3 linked regions of the Homo sapiens genome follow. The protein of the gene in region 1 purifies or fractionates together with the protein of each later gene. This does not show direct contact. Each region holds a gene or a part of one and is shown on either strand. Other genes may lie near its edges.

Region 1 (5,229 bases):
AGCTCATAGTGAGACCCATCCTTAGGTAAATACATTAGAGCTTTAGGATTCAAGAAATAGGCAGTTCAGTCAGTAACAGTGAAAAAGTAGAAAATTTATCCAGTAAGTGCTAAAGGGGAAGGCAGAGAGAGAGGGTAGAATGTTTCTCCAAGAGCAGGAAAATATCTGTATTCTCATCATAGTTATGGATATTCTAACAGAAAATCCTTCTTTCTTACTAATGAATAAATTATTTCCAAGTACCCAAGTACTACATTTCCAAGGAAACTTGTAAAAAAAACTATCCCCTGTTAGCATGCACATAAATTGACTTGTACTTATTGAATAAGGCCAAAAACTTCACATTAACCAGTACCCAAAATAACTGAGTTTACTTTAATATCTGTGGGCAAATATCAGAAGGGGAAAACAAAGACAATCAGCCCATTTTACCACACTGGAATATTTAGGCAAAAACATCTGCCAACTCATACTTTAAAAATTTTGTTAACTACAAAGACCCCCAAATGATATTAACACAGTAAAAATATTTTTAACTAATGGTTTCAAATAGCATTAATCTCTTCCCTATCAAACTTTTCATCAAGGTGCTGAGCAAACTTAAGTTTATTTAATTATCTTAAACTCATGCTAAAAGAAAGTGAAGCTGAAGAGGAAATAGCAACAAAAAAAGAAAAAGAAAAGAAGGAAGGATTAAAGGAATGAAGGATAAAAGGAGGAAGGGAGGGAAGAAGGGAGGAAAGGGGAAGGAAGGAAAAATAGAAGGAAGGAGGGAAAGAAAAAAGGAAGGGAGGAAGGTAGTTGAGAAGAAAATAAAGCAAATATCCTAACAAAAGATCATCTCCTTTTTTTCTGCTTTTGACTCCTATGAAGATTTTTAACTGATCCCATGTCCCATTCCATTTGAATTCAACTCAGTTCAAATATTTGCTATGTGCAGAGTTAAACTTGTGTAGCACATCCTCTCTAGGATTAATGATAAAACTATTGACAAACTCCAAAAGCACGTACATCCACATGATAAAACTGCACTTCCCATCATTTGCCTGGTTTTCAAAACTGTTTTGTGTCACTATCTCTTACGGCCTTCTTGACTAGAGAAGACTTAAACCAATATGATAGCTTTTGGCTGACTGAAAATACAGTGTTCATGGGCTCAAGATACTTTATTTACTCATTACTGACCATCCTGCATCCCTCATTGCCCTCTCCTCCCCAACACCAGAGCAGCACAGGCGCATGCACTTGTACACATACAAAGTGGCACACTAGCTGACTTGATGTTCTGGCCCCCTGGGATGTATCCAAAACTCATTGGTGCCAACTCCTCTAGAATTAAAAGCTCACTCAAGACTGCTTCTGTAAGTACACACTCAGTATCAATCACAGGAACTTTATTTTCCATGCACAGATAGTGTCTGGATCTATGTAATGCTTGTACAGGCATTAATCACATTCATGACAGCTCCAACCTCATAGAGGATGCCTATATGCTTACGTGTATTTCTGGGAGAATCAGTGAAAGTGAAGTTCGCGTACCAGAAGTGACATTAAAGATGGACAGGTCAAGGTGAATGCTGACCTTACTCCCGGACTGAGATCATAATCAAAAGAGGGAAAGACCAGTGAAAATTGGCCAGTCTCAACAACAAACAACTATTTTTTTTTCTAAGAAGCTTCATGGTACAATCTTTCTATAACCTTATACATTAAAGATTTATTGGCACCTACTGTAAGTGCTAAGTTCAAGAATGCAATGTTGACTGAATTTTTCATTGAATTCTTCAATGAATGAATTTAACAATGAATGAATGATGAATGTAAGAATGGATTCTTTACCCTCAAATAATGTGGTCGAGTCAAGGAGACAGATAAATTGAAAAACAATACAGTGGATAACAGAACAAATTATGGAAAATGTACTATGGGAGCAGAGCACTCACTCCCGAACCAGCAGTTAATCTCTTCTGTTCAACCTCAGTCCATAAAGGCTACAAAGTGGCCACTGAACTCTTTTCACCTATTACTGCTCTACCAAAGGCCCCATCATGTTTCTAGGATGTTTGCAGGCTAACACAACACAAACCATAACTAACTCACATGCACGAACACTTCAAACAATTTCAATGACTTTAGAAATTTTTCTAGTTGAGTTGATGACTCCTCATGAGTTCTATCAATCATTATTTTACCAGCGTTTTTTGTTGTTGTTCCAAAACAACACTGCCAGATGGAGATGTTCCATGTCTGCACTGTCCCATGTGATTGCCACTAGCCACACAGATTACTGAGCACTTGAAATGTGGATGGTGTGATTAGGGAACTGAATTGTTTTATTTTAATAAATTTTAAATTACATAGCTACATCTGCCTAGTGGCTATGGTATTAAACAGGACATTTCTAAAATACAAGTGTTTTAAGATTGTGCTATATGATATTTTTTCTTTCTTTAATTTCTTTAATTTCTTTAAACACAGAGAAAAATTGGTTTCCTTTTGTAATCTGAAGTTACTTCTAGGAATTAATCTCAATAAGACACTAAAAGTTGAAATACAATTTAAATGTATATATTTTATATATATATACACAAACACATATATATATATACACTTTTATGTATATGCATATATATACATTTATATATGTATATACACACATATCTCTCTCTTGTTTAAATTGGCTCTGACTTTTACCATTGGAATTCTTAATGGAGCAGGAAGCATTTTAAAGTATTTGAGAGTTAACATATTCAACACATTAAGAGATATTTGGAAAAGACTTATTTTCGACTAGTTGTGAACAGAAAAAGTATCTTTAAAACAAGATTTAAAGAAAGTTTTCATTGTGGGATTGAATCAGATTAACTGGGTTGTGAGCATCATGAGTTTAAGTCTCTGTATGTTGATGCATAGCTGAATTATCAGCGCCTAGCATGGTGCCTTGCAGATGTCGGGCACTTAGTGAACATCTAGTGAATGAGTAGTTAAAGTAGCATGGCTGGAACGATTCTGTATCTGGATCACAGTGATTGCTACATGACCATATGCATCGGTGAAAACTTTCAAGATGGTAAAAATGTAAATTATGCCTTAATTTTCAAAAAAGGATAAAAAAGTAATACAAGAGTACATGGGCAAAATCATGAAAGGGATCCTCAGAAAAGCAAATGGGACTGTGAAATGTACCATCACATCACATGAAAGCAAGCTAGTGAATGCCAAACAGCAAATTGATCCTGGGAATGAAAAGAGGAAAAGCCTCAGGCTCTGGATTGGGAAGGAATACACAGGCTGAATCAGGATTTGTGATGTTAGGCAACTTATCTGAGTTCTCTGTGCCGGGTTCCCTCATTTGTAAAAGGTGTAAGATGAAAACACCAATATCAAAGGGTTTTGAGGAGAATGAAATGAGAAAATGTACATAAAATGCTCAGTGCTGAAACTGCACCTAGTAGACACTTGAGCAGATGGTAACTGAAAATGAAACACAGGCTCATCTTCTTAATTATGCCTTCCTTTGAGATCTTCTGGTCCTGACTGAGGGGGTTCCATTTCCATGCAACAGTCTGAACGGTCAGCAAATGGGTGGTCAAGCAAATCTCTCACTTTAGACAGTACTCAAATCTTTTCGGAGTTAAAGGGAATGAGAAAACGCAGCTTATGCTTCCAGAAAAACCTGAATTTTTGCCAGAAGCAAAATTCCCACAACATAAAATTTTAAGCAAGATCTTGAATCTCTAGTGCAGACATGAGAGTAGAAATGAATTCATCAATGAAATGATTTCTCCTGGCAAACTTCCCTGACTGGAAGCAACCACAGTATACGTAAAAAGGAGAGAGAAATGAAATAAAGAAAATTGCAACTCTGCAATGAAAAGGAATTAATTTTCTGAATAGAGGCTAGTTATTATTTGGGAAAAAGGCATGAATATTTTTTATATGTGGTTACAATTTGTTTTCAGAGGATAAATAGATCAAACTGAGAGTCACAACATATTGAATTTCAGACTCTATAACCAGCATAAATTAAGAAGTTAATTCTTCCAGAGGAGTTGGGTATAATTTATTGTTAATGTGGCTCTTAAAGCAGTAAGATGTGACTGAGAAGTACAGAATCTGATTCATTACATATTTAATAATAATACTTAAACATTTGAACTTAGTGTACCTTGCAGCACTATAATTCACTTAATTCAAAGATCCTGAATTCCTTCATTAATTGGAAGAAATTATTCCTTAAAAGCTCTTAAAATATCTACCTCTCCTCTATGACTCATAGTTAAGCCTCCTTACAGGAAAGCCACTGTAGTTTTTCCCATAAGATACACCTGTTCAGTGGGTCAAGAAAAATTTGTTTTGGTTCATGTATTCTGATAAATTTTTTGTCTGGAAAGTTATTTGAAAGAAGCAGTTGGTCTATTATGTCCAGTTCAAAACATCAGGACATTTTAGATACAAAATGATCTGATCTGATCACTAAGACATTCTTAATTGCCAATAATCAATATCTTAGTGAACTCTACAACTTGTTCCTGGATAATGGTAAGAATGACAGCCTAATGTTCAAATTGTATTGAGCTCTTCTCCTGTACAGCAAGTTTTAGTCAGTTGACAGACCCTTACTGAGCACTTAATACATATGTCAGGCTACCTCATTGGCTCTAAGAACACTGAAGATGAGGGGTAAACGCATCCACAAACACTGAAGTAGGTGCTGAGTGAAAAATAATTGAAATGGAGCCTAACTTTTTCATTTGAAGATAATGTGCCTCACTTTTTCAAAACATGCTGCCCCAAGATCAAGATATTTATGTTACTTGATGTTGCCAATGCCTCCAGGTCAGCCTGTTGGCAACTGTGTAAAAGGCCAACTTTGTTAAAATGGTGAGGAATACAAAAGTAGTCACCTTCCAGTCTCAACAAAACTCACTTGGAGTTCCAATGCAAGCTTACATTCAGTAGCATTACATAAGCTTGTGATAGTCTTTAAAAGTTAATTAAATTCTTTACACTTAAATTTTACATCACCAAAGACTTAAAGAAAATGTCCAACAAACTGAAAACTATACAACCAAAAATAGGCTACAAATAATGCTTTACAGAGAAAAACCTTTGCAAATGTGATATATTTAGTATATTGGCATAATGGAATATTACTCAGCCACAAAAAGGAATGAAGTACTTATACATACTATAACATGGATGAAACTGAAAACATTATGCCAAGTG
Region 2 (4,482 bases), on another chromosome or scaffold:
CCAGAGGCTCAAGGAACTCCAGGGTGTAAAACTATGTAAAATTAAGTTACACCCTGGAGTCACAGCCCTCCAGCAGCATCCCCCTCCCACTCCCAGCCTGTTGCAGCCAACAAGACCCCCACAGACAAAAACAGCTCTCTCCTGTCTCCTGGGCAGCAAGCTTGGAGACATGGCCAGTTCTTTCCCTGGCTAAGGGACAGGGGCCTGGATCATCTAATTCCTGAAGGCAGCACTACCAATTGCAAGGGCCCTTGGCTCCTAAGCTGTTTCTCCCCCTCCACCCATTCCCAGAGCTTCCCACCTTCTATATCAAGACAGGATGGATGGGTTCCCCCAGGACCAGCTCAGCCAAAATGGAAGGACTTTGCCCCCAGCACAACAAGGTGGGTCACCCCATATCCTACACATTAGACGTACCTTTCCCAGACCCAAGACAAATGCCATGTTCCCCAGAGGAAGAGGGAAAGGGGGCGGGAGGAAGTCTAGAGCAAGGATTCAATGGAGAAGGAGAAACCAAGAGGAGCTTTGAGATCAGAATTAAATTCTTTAATACAAAATGCTTTTTTTTTTTTAAGATATATCTGTATTTCTTTGTCGTTGTTTAAAAATAAATATGTACTACGGAATATCTCGAAAAACTGCACTAGAGACAAAGACGTGATGTTAATATCTTTTCCCCACAATTATTACGGATAAACAGTAGCACCAATAAATAAATGATAACAAATATTAAAATTAAAAAAGGAGAGAGATTTAGTATGTAGAATTCTCTATTTTTTCTTGTTTTGTTTTTACATATAAAAAACAGAATAGCAATGTCTATTTTATCAGAATCACATATATACATAAACATATATATATATATATACACACAAATACAAGTTGCCAAATATATATATAGTATGTAGATGTATATTGAAACCTTATTTCAAAGGAATGTGTGCTGGGGAGCCAGGGGATCGGGGAGGGCAGAGCTGAGTGTTAGCAAAATTAAATATCTGTTCAAGATAAGCTAGTGACTGTCACCGATCAGGGAGAGAGAGATTGGAAACATGAATTTTATATACAAAAACCGGTACAAATAAGAGAGCAAGAGAGAGCAAAAGATACATCTCATAAATAGTTGAAATTAAATATTAACCAAGAATACTGAAAAAAAACCCTACTCTTTAATTAAATTAACTGTTTTAATTTCTAATTAAAAAGGGATATTAAATAAGTACCGTATATAAAACACTTTCTCTTTTCTCTGCCTCCACAATGGGCACGTGGATCCTGCCCTGTCTCTCTGTGCCTCGGGAAGGGAAGGGAAGGACCAGGGGATGGAGGAAGGTCAACCACTCACACACACACAACCAGGTCTCCTGGGGGGACAGAACTAGTGGTTTCAATGGTGTGAGGACATAGGTCCTTTTAGGCTGCACCCCAGGAAGGGGAGCAGGAAGAGGATGAGGGCGAGTCCCAGGAAGGGGAGCTGTCATGGGCTGCTTCTTCCAACAATGTGTCTCTTCTCTTCGCCGGGACATCTGCCAGTGGTCTCCTGGGCAACTCAGAAGCAGGTGAGAGTAAGCGAAGGCCGCCCAGGCTCCTGAATCTTCCAGGCAGTGCCCCTGGGGGCGAGATGCGCGTGCAGCATGTGGAGGGAATCCCCAAAGCACAGCAATGTCCTGAAGCTCCCCAAACTCCTGGTCAGAGCCGGTGTCCTCATCCCTGTACCTGTGATCTGTCTTTCTGTCCGTCTGACCTGGGGTAGAGAGGCTCAGCGCCAGGGCTGGGTTTGTCGGTGTTCCCAAAACTGGGTCATATTTGCCCCCATGCCCTGGCCTTGCACATTCCTGGGCAGGGGAGAGGACCCTGGCCCCACCAAGTGGGACAAAAAAAAGATCATGCCAGAGTCTCTCATCTCCTCCTCTTCCCTGTCAGGATCTGAGTGGGAACATTCCCCTCCCAACTCAAGTCCACAGCAGTCAAATACATCCAGTGAAGACACCAATAACATTAGCACTGTTAATTTAAAAAAAGAATATATATATTTTATATATATAAAATAGAGATATTTATTTTTATATATATATAATATATATATATATAAATGTATGTATGTGGGTGGGTGTGTCTACAGGAATCCCAGAAATAAAACTCTCTAATCTTCCGGGCTCGGTGATTTAGCAGCAAGAAAAATAAAATGGCGAATCCAATTCCAAGAGGGACCGTGCTGGGTCACCCGCCCGGGAATGCTTCCGCCGGAGTCTCGCCCTCCGGACCCAAAGTGCTCTGCGCAGAGTCTCCTCTTCCTTCATTTCAGGTTTCTGGATTAAGGACTGTTCTGTCGATGGTGATGGTGTGGTGGCGGCAGCGTGGTTTCTGTATCGATCGTTCTGTATCAGTCTTTCCTGGTGAGAGATCTGGTTCCCGAAACCCTGAGGGAGGCTCCTTCCTCCTGCCCGGCTCACCGCCTCGGCTTGTCACATCTGAGGGAAATGGAAAACAAAGGCTGGGGTTAGGGCCAAGTGAGGAGGCCTGGCGATGAGGCAGGCGGCCTCCCCATTCCTGGGGGCCCCTGGGTCACTGCAGCCTCCGGCACCATAAGAGCAGAGAGGACAGGAAGGTGTGGTCCTGGGGCAGAAAGCCCCAGTATGAGAACAGCCCCAGCCCTGCCCTCAGGGAGCCCCGGCCTGAGCAGCAGCTCCACTCAGGGGCTCCCAGTCTACCCTCCTGAGCTTGCAATCTACTTGAGACAAGACAAGGACATGGGAACACTTTACAAAGCAACAAATGAACGGATACCAAAGAACAGTCCCCACTTGACATTTTAAGAGCTGATGGGTGACCAGAGCTGGATGAAGTTAATCAGAAGAGGCTCCCTGCTGAGGAGGGTTTTCAGTTCAGTCTCTAGGGGCTGGTGTGGGGAAGAGAGTGGGCAGATCTTCTGGGAGAACGCCTGAGGCAGAGAGGCTTGGCCGGGTGACCAACAATGGCAAGGGCCTGCCCTGGGGACAGGAGGCTCCCGAGGGGGTAGCGTAGAGCAGGAGGCCCCAGGAAGGTGAGGGACCATCTCCATTCCCCATGTCCCCTCCCACTGTGGCTGTAGGCCTCATCTCTCTTGAGCTGCCTGGAGGTTGCAGGCCCAGGTAACAGGTTGTCTTTCCTTTCAAATATGCTGCTTCACTTAGGATGGGGAGAGACAATTCGGCGGCTTCACTACTCCAGCTGAAGCAAAGGGGGCCTCCAAGAACTTTCTCAGCATGCCCCTGCCCCTGGGTGATTGTGAGAAGGAGGCAGAACAGGCCCTACCCTTCTGGGGAGCCCCGAAACGGAGTCCTAAGCCTCCAATTTTGGAAACTGATATTCCCAGATACAGCCAGCTTGGGGGTTGGGTAAAGGTATTGGGAGGTTAGAGTAACTTCAGTTAGCTCCCAGGTCACTTCACACAAACCCCCATCAGCAGAATAATCACCTAAAAACCCTAAAATGTCAAGTCCCTTATCTTTCCCAAGGACCCCTGGGGAACTGAGACTCCCCTCATCCAGCCCTGAAGTTAGGCAGAGCCCCCACCCCAGCACTAATATACGCCCTCTTGGTTTCACATAGGGCCAAGACAGACAGCACCCCACACCAACTACCCAGGCCTGGTTCCCAGCATCCCCTGAGCACACACAAGCCACAAGAACATTGCTGGGGGAGGGGAGACACTCCAAGGACTTCCCTAACACAGCCTCGGGGTGAGCTGGGGGTGCCTTGGCCCTGTCTAGGAAATCCCCACAAAGTCTTGCCTCCCTGACTGACGCTTACCCTGACCCCCAGGGCCTCCCTCACTCTGAGCACAGGCCAAGTTGGTATAAAGAACATAAGCTAAGGCATTAAAAGATGCCAGCCACCTGTCCCGACCCTGTGCTCCTGACCTCACCCTCTGAACTGAGTCACACATTCACTCATGCACTTGACACTTCCTTGGTCCCCAGTATGGGCAAAGGAAAGAGGTACAGATGCCCGGGGCTCACAAAGGTACGTAAACGAGGCCCGGGCTTACGGAGCTCACAGGCTAATGTCAGGAGAATGGGCACAGACCCCTCCCTCCACGCATCCTGGGGGCACTTGAAAATGTGTGGGCTGCTTGGGGTTGTCACCATGACTGGTGGAGGATTAAAGGTATCTAGTATTCTTGGATGCTACAGCTCCTTCAGTGTGTAGGCAAAAGTGCCCCATCCTAAACGAACAGCCAGACCCCTTGCCCTCAGAGCCCCAGTCTGAGGAGGGAGACATAGCCCTGGCCTGAGGGAGCCTCAGTCTGAGCGGGGAGACAGCCCTATCAGGGAGCCCAGGTCGGAGGGGAGAGACACAGCCCTACCCTCAGGGAACCTCAGTCTGAGTGGGGAGACACAACCCTTTCCTCAGGGAGGCCCAGTCTGAAGTGGGAGACTCAATTCCTTCCCCCAGCAAGAAACACTGAGTGAGTGAGAAGCCCAGCCATGCAGACTTCAA
Region 3 (4,593 bases), on another chromosome or scaffold:
AACACTTTCGGTGGCCGAGTAGGGTGGAGAGCGTGAGCCCAGAAGTTCAGGAGTTCAAGACCAGCCTGGCCAACATGGTGAAACGCCGCCTCTACAAAAAAATACAAAAACTAATGGGGGGCGGTGGCAAATGCCTATAGTCCCAGCTACCTGGAAGGCTGAGGTGGGAGGATCACTTGAGCCTGGGAAGTCAGGGCTGTAATAAGCTGTGGTCATACTGCTGCCCTCCAGCCTGAGCAACAGAGTGACACTGTCTCAAAAAAAAAAAAAAAAAAAATGTTATTGAAACATAGTCACATTCATTCACATCTGTAGTGGCTGTGGTTACTTTTGCACTACAATGATGGAGTTGATTAGATGCAACAGAGACCTTAAGGTCTTCAATGACTAAAACATTTACTGTCTGGCCCTTTACAGACAGTCTGTCAATCCCTAATTTATTATATGCCTTCTTCTCCCTCAGCTAACTAATTGCCTCACCCCAGGAATGTTCATTACTACCTCTTCTTTGTTCAAGCCCCAGCTACTCCTCAAAACCCAAAATTCCCTTCTTCCCCTTTCCCAAATCCTAACCATATCAGCAGTTTGTGTGGAAGTAGGTAAGCAAAACACCATTCGTCATTATGTAAAGCAAGGCATTGGAGATGCGGTCCCTACATGTACAAGGGGAGGCTGATTACCCCCCAATTCATTTCCAATTTCTCAAAGCAGGTTGGCAGGCTAGCACCTAGGAAGGAGAGAGTGAGCAGATGATGCAGACAGAGCACTGAGAAACTCCTCAGTAACTCATGAGAGTTCATGTGTCAGTCCCCTTGTCTGCTATGTCATCCTTTAGACATCAATTCAAGACAGCAAAATTCAAAAAAGAAATGAGGAAGAAAAAGGTGATGAGGGGCAGAAGGAAAATAGAAGAGAACTTGTCACTTCACAATGTAGAGACTGTCACAAACTGTGGTGAATGGAAAACTATTCTGTTCACCTGGGCGTGGTGTCTCACGCCTATAATCCCAGCACTTTGGGAGGCTGAGGCGGGCAGATCACTTGAGGTCAGAAGACCAGCCTGAGCAACATGGTGAAACCTGGTCTCTACTAAAAATACAAAAAATTAGCCGGGCATGGTGGCACATGCCTGTAATCCCAGCTACTCGGAAGGCTGAGGCATGAAAATCACTTGAGCCCAGGAGGTGGAGGCTGCAGTGAGCTGTGATTGCACCATTGTTGCCCTACAACCTGGGCAACAGAGCTAGACCTGTTTCTAAAATAATAAATAATAATAATAATAATTAAAAAAATAAAATGTACATTTCTAACTTCATTTCAAAGTTAAGGCCAGGTGCAGTGGCTCATGCCTGTAATCCCAGTATTTGGGAGGCCGAGGCAAGGGGATCACTTGAGCCCAGGAATTTGAGACCAGCCTGTGCAAAATAGTGAAACCTTGTCTCTAAATTAAAATAAAATAAAAAGTAAACAAAGTCAAATTTTTTTTAAAAATCAGAAGAGAAACGTTGAACTGCATACTTCCAGGCCCAACAGAGTAGAGGTCAGCACAGGCGCAACCAGGTTGCATATCTACATACAATCTGCCCTGGCAGGAAGGATATCCTTTTCTTCCAGGTTTAACCACTCTAGGTGACCCAGATTATTTTAAATTATAGCGTCAACAATTTAAAGCAGCTTTTACTGTAAGGCACAATCTCAATAATTAATAGGGCAATATAATAAATACATAAAAGCTCAGGGAGAAAACAAGACTCTTGAATGGGCCTGGAAGTTTTGCCACGTCCCCCGAAGTACTCTCGGTTGCATCCTTCGGAACCTTTCAACACATATACATATACCTCCCTCATCCTTTTGTGAAGAGTGTCTATTAATCACTAGATTAAGAGGATTTGGATAAAATTTATAAACGTACAAACTGTGCTACCAAGGACTGACACATTTACTTTTCTGGCTCATCAGTTTATGTCCTAGAAAAACTCCAGATCCACATTAACCAGCTGTTTCCTATTTTACATTTTACGATGGTGTTTCCACTTTCACCTGCAAAGTGACTAATAGTAATACCTATTCCAGTAATTTAAGTAACACCATTTAGAGTAATTTCATCTTTAGTACTGTATTTATACTACTAAGAAAGCTGCCAACGATTCAAGCTGCACTCACTGGTGAAACCCTATGCTATATATGTAATTAATTTATTTCCTAAATTCTTACCTCCCTCCACCCCCTCCATTGGAAAATAAACTCTAAGAATGCAAAAGTTTTTGTGTGTTTTTCTTTAACGCTTAGAGCAGTGCCTGGCACCTAACAGTCAATATCTGCTAACTTTGATGAATGAATGGTATATTTATATTATGCAATATTACTATGCAGCCATGAAACACAATGAGTTAGAGTGGTACCAGCTAATTTAATGGAATTTCCAGAAGTATGAAATTAAGAAAACAAGAAGAAAAGTGTCAAAAATATCATCCCACTTTTTTTTTTCTTCCCTGAAACGGAGTCTTGCTCTGACACCCAGGCTACAGTATAGTGCTGCCATCATGGCTCACTGCAACCTCAAACTTCTGGGCTCAGGGAATCCTTCCACCTCAGCCTCCCATGTAGCTGGGACTACAGGTGTGTGCCACAACGCCCAGCTAATTTATTTTAAATTATTTTTTGTAGAGACAGGGTCTCCCTATGTTGCCCAGGCTGGTCTCAAACTACTAGGCTCAAGTGATCCTCCCACCTCAGCTTCCTGAAGTGTTGGGATTACAGGTGTGAGCCACTGTGCCCAGCCTAATCCCACTTTTTAAAAAGTATACCCCCAAATCCATACACTGGTGAGGAAGTGGAGAACGTGGAATCCTCATACACAGAATTTAAAATGGTACAGCTCTGGAGAACATTATAGCAGTTTCTCAAAGTGTTTAACATAGCTACTACACGACCCAGCAATTCAATTCCCAGATATACACCTGAGAGAACTGAAAGGATATGTCCACACAAAAATTTGTAGAGGAACTTGTACACACTTGTTCACAGTAGCATTATTCTTAATAGCCCAAAGTGGCAAAAACGCAAATGTTCATCAACTGATGGACAAATAAAGCATGAACAACTGATGGACAAATAAAGTATATCATTCAGCATATAAGAAATGAAGTGCTAATACATGCTACAACAGGGACAGACCTTGATAACATTTTGCTAAATGAAAAAAGCCAAACAAAAGGTCACATGTTGTATGATGCCATTTACATAAAAATACCTAGACTAGGCAAATCCATAGAGACACAAAGATCAGTGACTGCCCAGAGCCAGAGGGAGTGGTGAATGTGAAATGACTACTAATGAGTACAGACTTCTTTTTGAGGTATTGAACATGTTATGGAATCAGATGGTGGTGATCAATGCATAACTTTGTGAATATACCAAAAACCACATGAAAGGTACACTTTAAAAGCCTGAATTTTAAGGTATGTGAATTATATCTCCATAAACCTGTGATTTTGTTAATATACGCTTATTTGCAAATGAATACATGGATAATGAGGAATAATATGAAAGGTTAATGACAACCTTGGTGATAGGGTACCGGAGACTGGGAGAGGAAGATAAGTGTTGAGGTAGAAGAAGACAAAAAATAAAAGACCAAAACAATAATCCAAAGCCAGGGGCCATGAGTTGGGAGATGGAGCAAGACGAAGTGTACAAAGAAATGAGCATAAATCATAAAAATGAGGGAACTAGGGTTGAAAAACCCAGTAAGTAGTTTGTAATGGGGGAGACGAAGCAAACCTAAGTAACTGCAATGATTCAACAGAATTTGCAGAAAATGCAGAAGGGCGAGAAAAACAATGAAAAAATGGATCAGAAGATTTAAAATTGGCTCTACCCCACCAAAGTTTTAAAAAGCAAGCAAGAAGAAAATTCAGTTGCTCCTGGGCAAGAATTCTTGGGCCCAGTGGGGTAGAACCAAACCATGATAAGGAGACACCAGTGTTTTGTAAGCAAGAGAATATATTAAGGAGAGAAAAGGGGCATTTATTGGGAGAAAAGGTCTCACTGTGATTGTTCTGGAATAAAGTAGCCCCATCGGACTGCCTCAGGAACTCATGATGGAAGAGGTGCCACTGGAAAATGGCTTAGTCGGGATCTTCCCCAAGAACACTAGAAGAGAGAGAGGAAGAATAGAATAGCTTTAAATTTTAGCAGATATTTCTTTTTCTTGTTTAATTAAAATAAACCTTATTGACCTAATATTTTTGAGACTGGGCTCTTGCAATGCTGCCCAAGCTGAACTCAAACTCCTAGGCTCAAGAGATTCTCCCACTTCAGCCTCCTGAAAAGCTGGCACTACAGGTGCGCACCACTGGGTCCAGCATAATGGCTATTTCTTGACAAATCTTGACAATGCCACCAGTATGTTTTTCTTTAGAGACAGAGTCTCGCTTCGTAGCCCAGGCTGGAGAACAGTGGTGTGATCCCTAGCTCACTGCAGCCTCAAACACCTGGACTCAGGAGATCCCCCTGCCTCAGCCTCTCAAGTACCTGAGACCACAGGTGCGCACCACCACACCTGGCGAATTTTATTTTTTTTTATTATAC

The links. Proteins that work in one complex are often made in the same cells at the same time.
Region 2: the proteins of PTPRZ1 (region 1) and VEGFA purify together in Homo sapiens (affinity purification with western blotting; one study listed by BioGRID). This does not show direct contact.
Region 3: the proteins of PTPRZ1 (region 1) and SPECC1L purify together in Homo sapiens (affinity purification with mass spectrometry; one large-scale study listed by BioGRID and IntAct). This does not show direct contact.

The regions. Positions count from the first base shown.
Region 1 is NC_000007.14:121,875,330-121,880,558, reverse strand, and holds part of PTPRZ1 (receptor-type tyrosine-protein phosphatase zeta isoform 1 precursor), read right to left. Parts: intron 1-5,229. UniProt on the Homo sapiens protein: Protein tyrosine phosphatase that negatively regulates oligodendrocyte precursor proliferation in the embryonic spinal cord. Required for normal differentiation of the precursor cells into mature, fully myelinating oligodendrocytes.
Region 2 is NC_000006.12:43,782,530-43,787,011, reverse strand, and holds the end of VEGFA (vascular endothelial growth factor A, long form), read right to left. Parts: intron 2,472-4,482; coding exon 2,450-2,471; coding exon of another isoform or gene 2,384-2,449; 3' UTR 525-2,383; downstream 1-524.
Region 3 is NC_000022.11:24,276,262-24,280,854, reverse strand, and holds part of SPECC1L (cytospin-A), read right to left. Parts: intron 4,156-4,593; 5' UTR 4,052-4,155; intron 1-4,051. UniProt on the Homo sapiens protein: Involved in cytokinesis and spindle organization. May play a role in actin cytoskeleton organization and microtubule stabilization and hence required for proper cell adhesion and migration.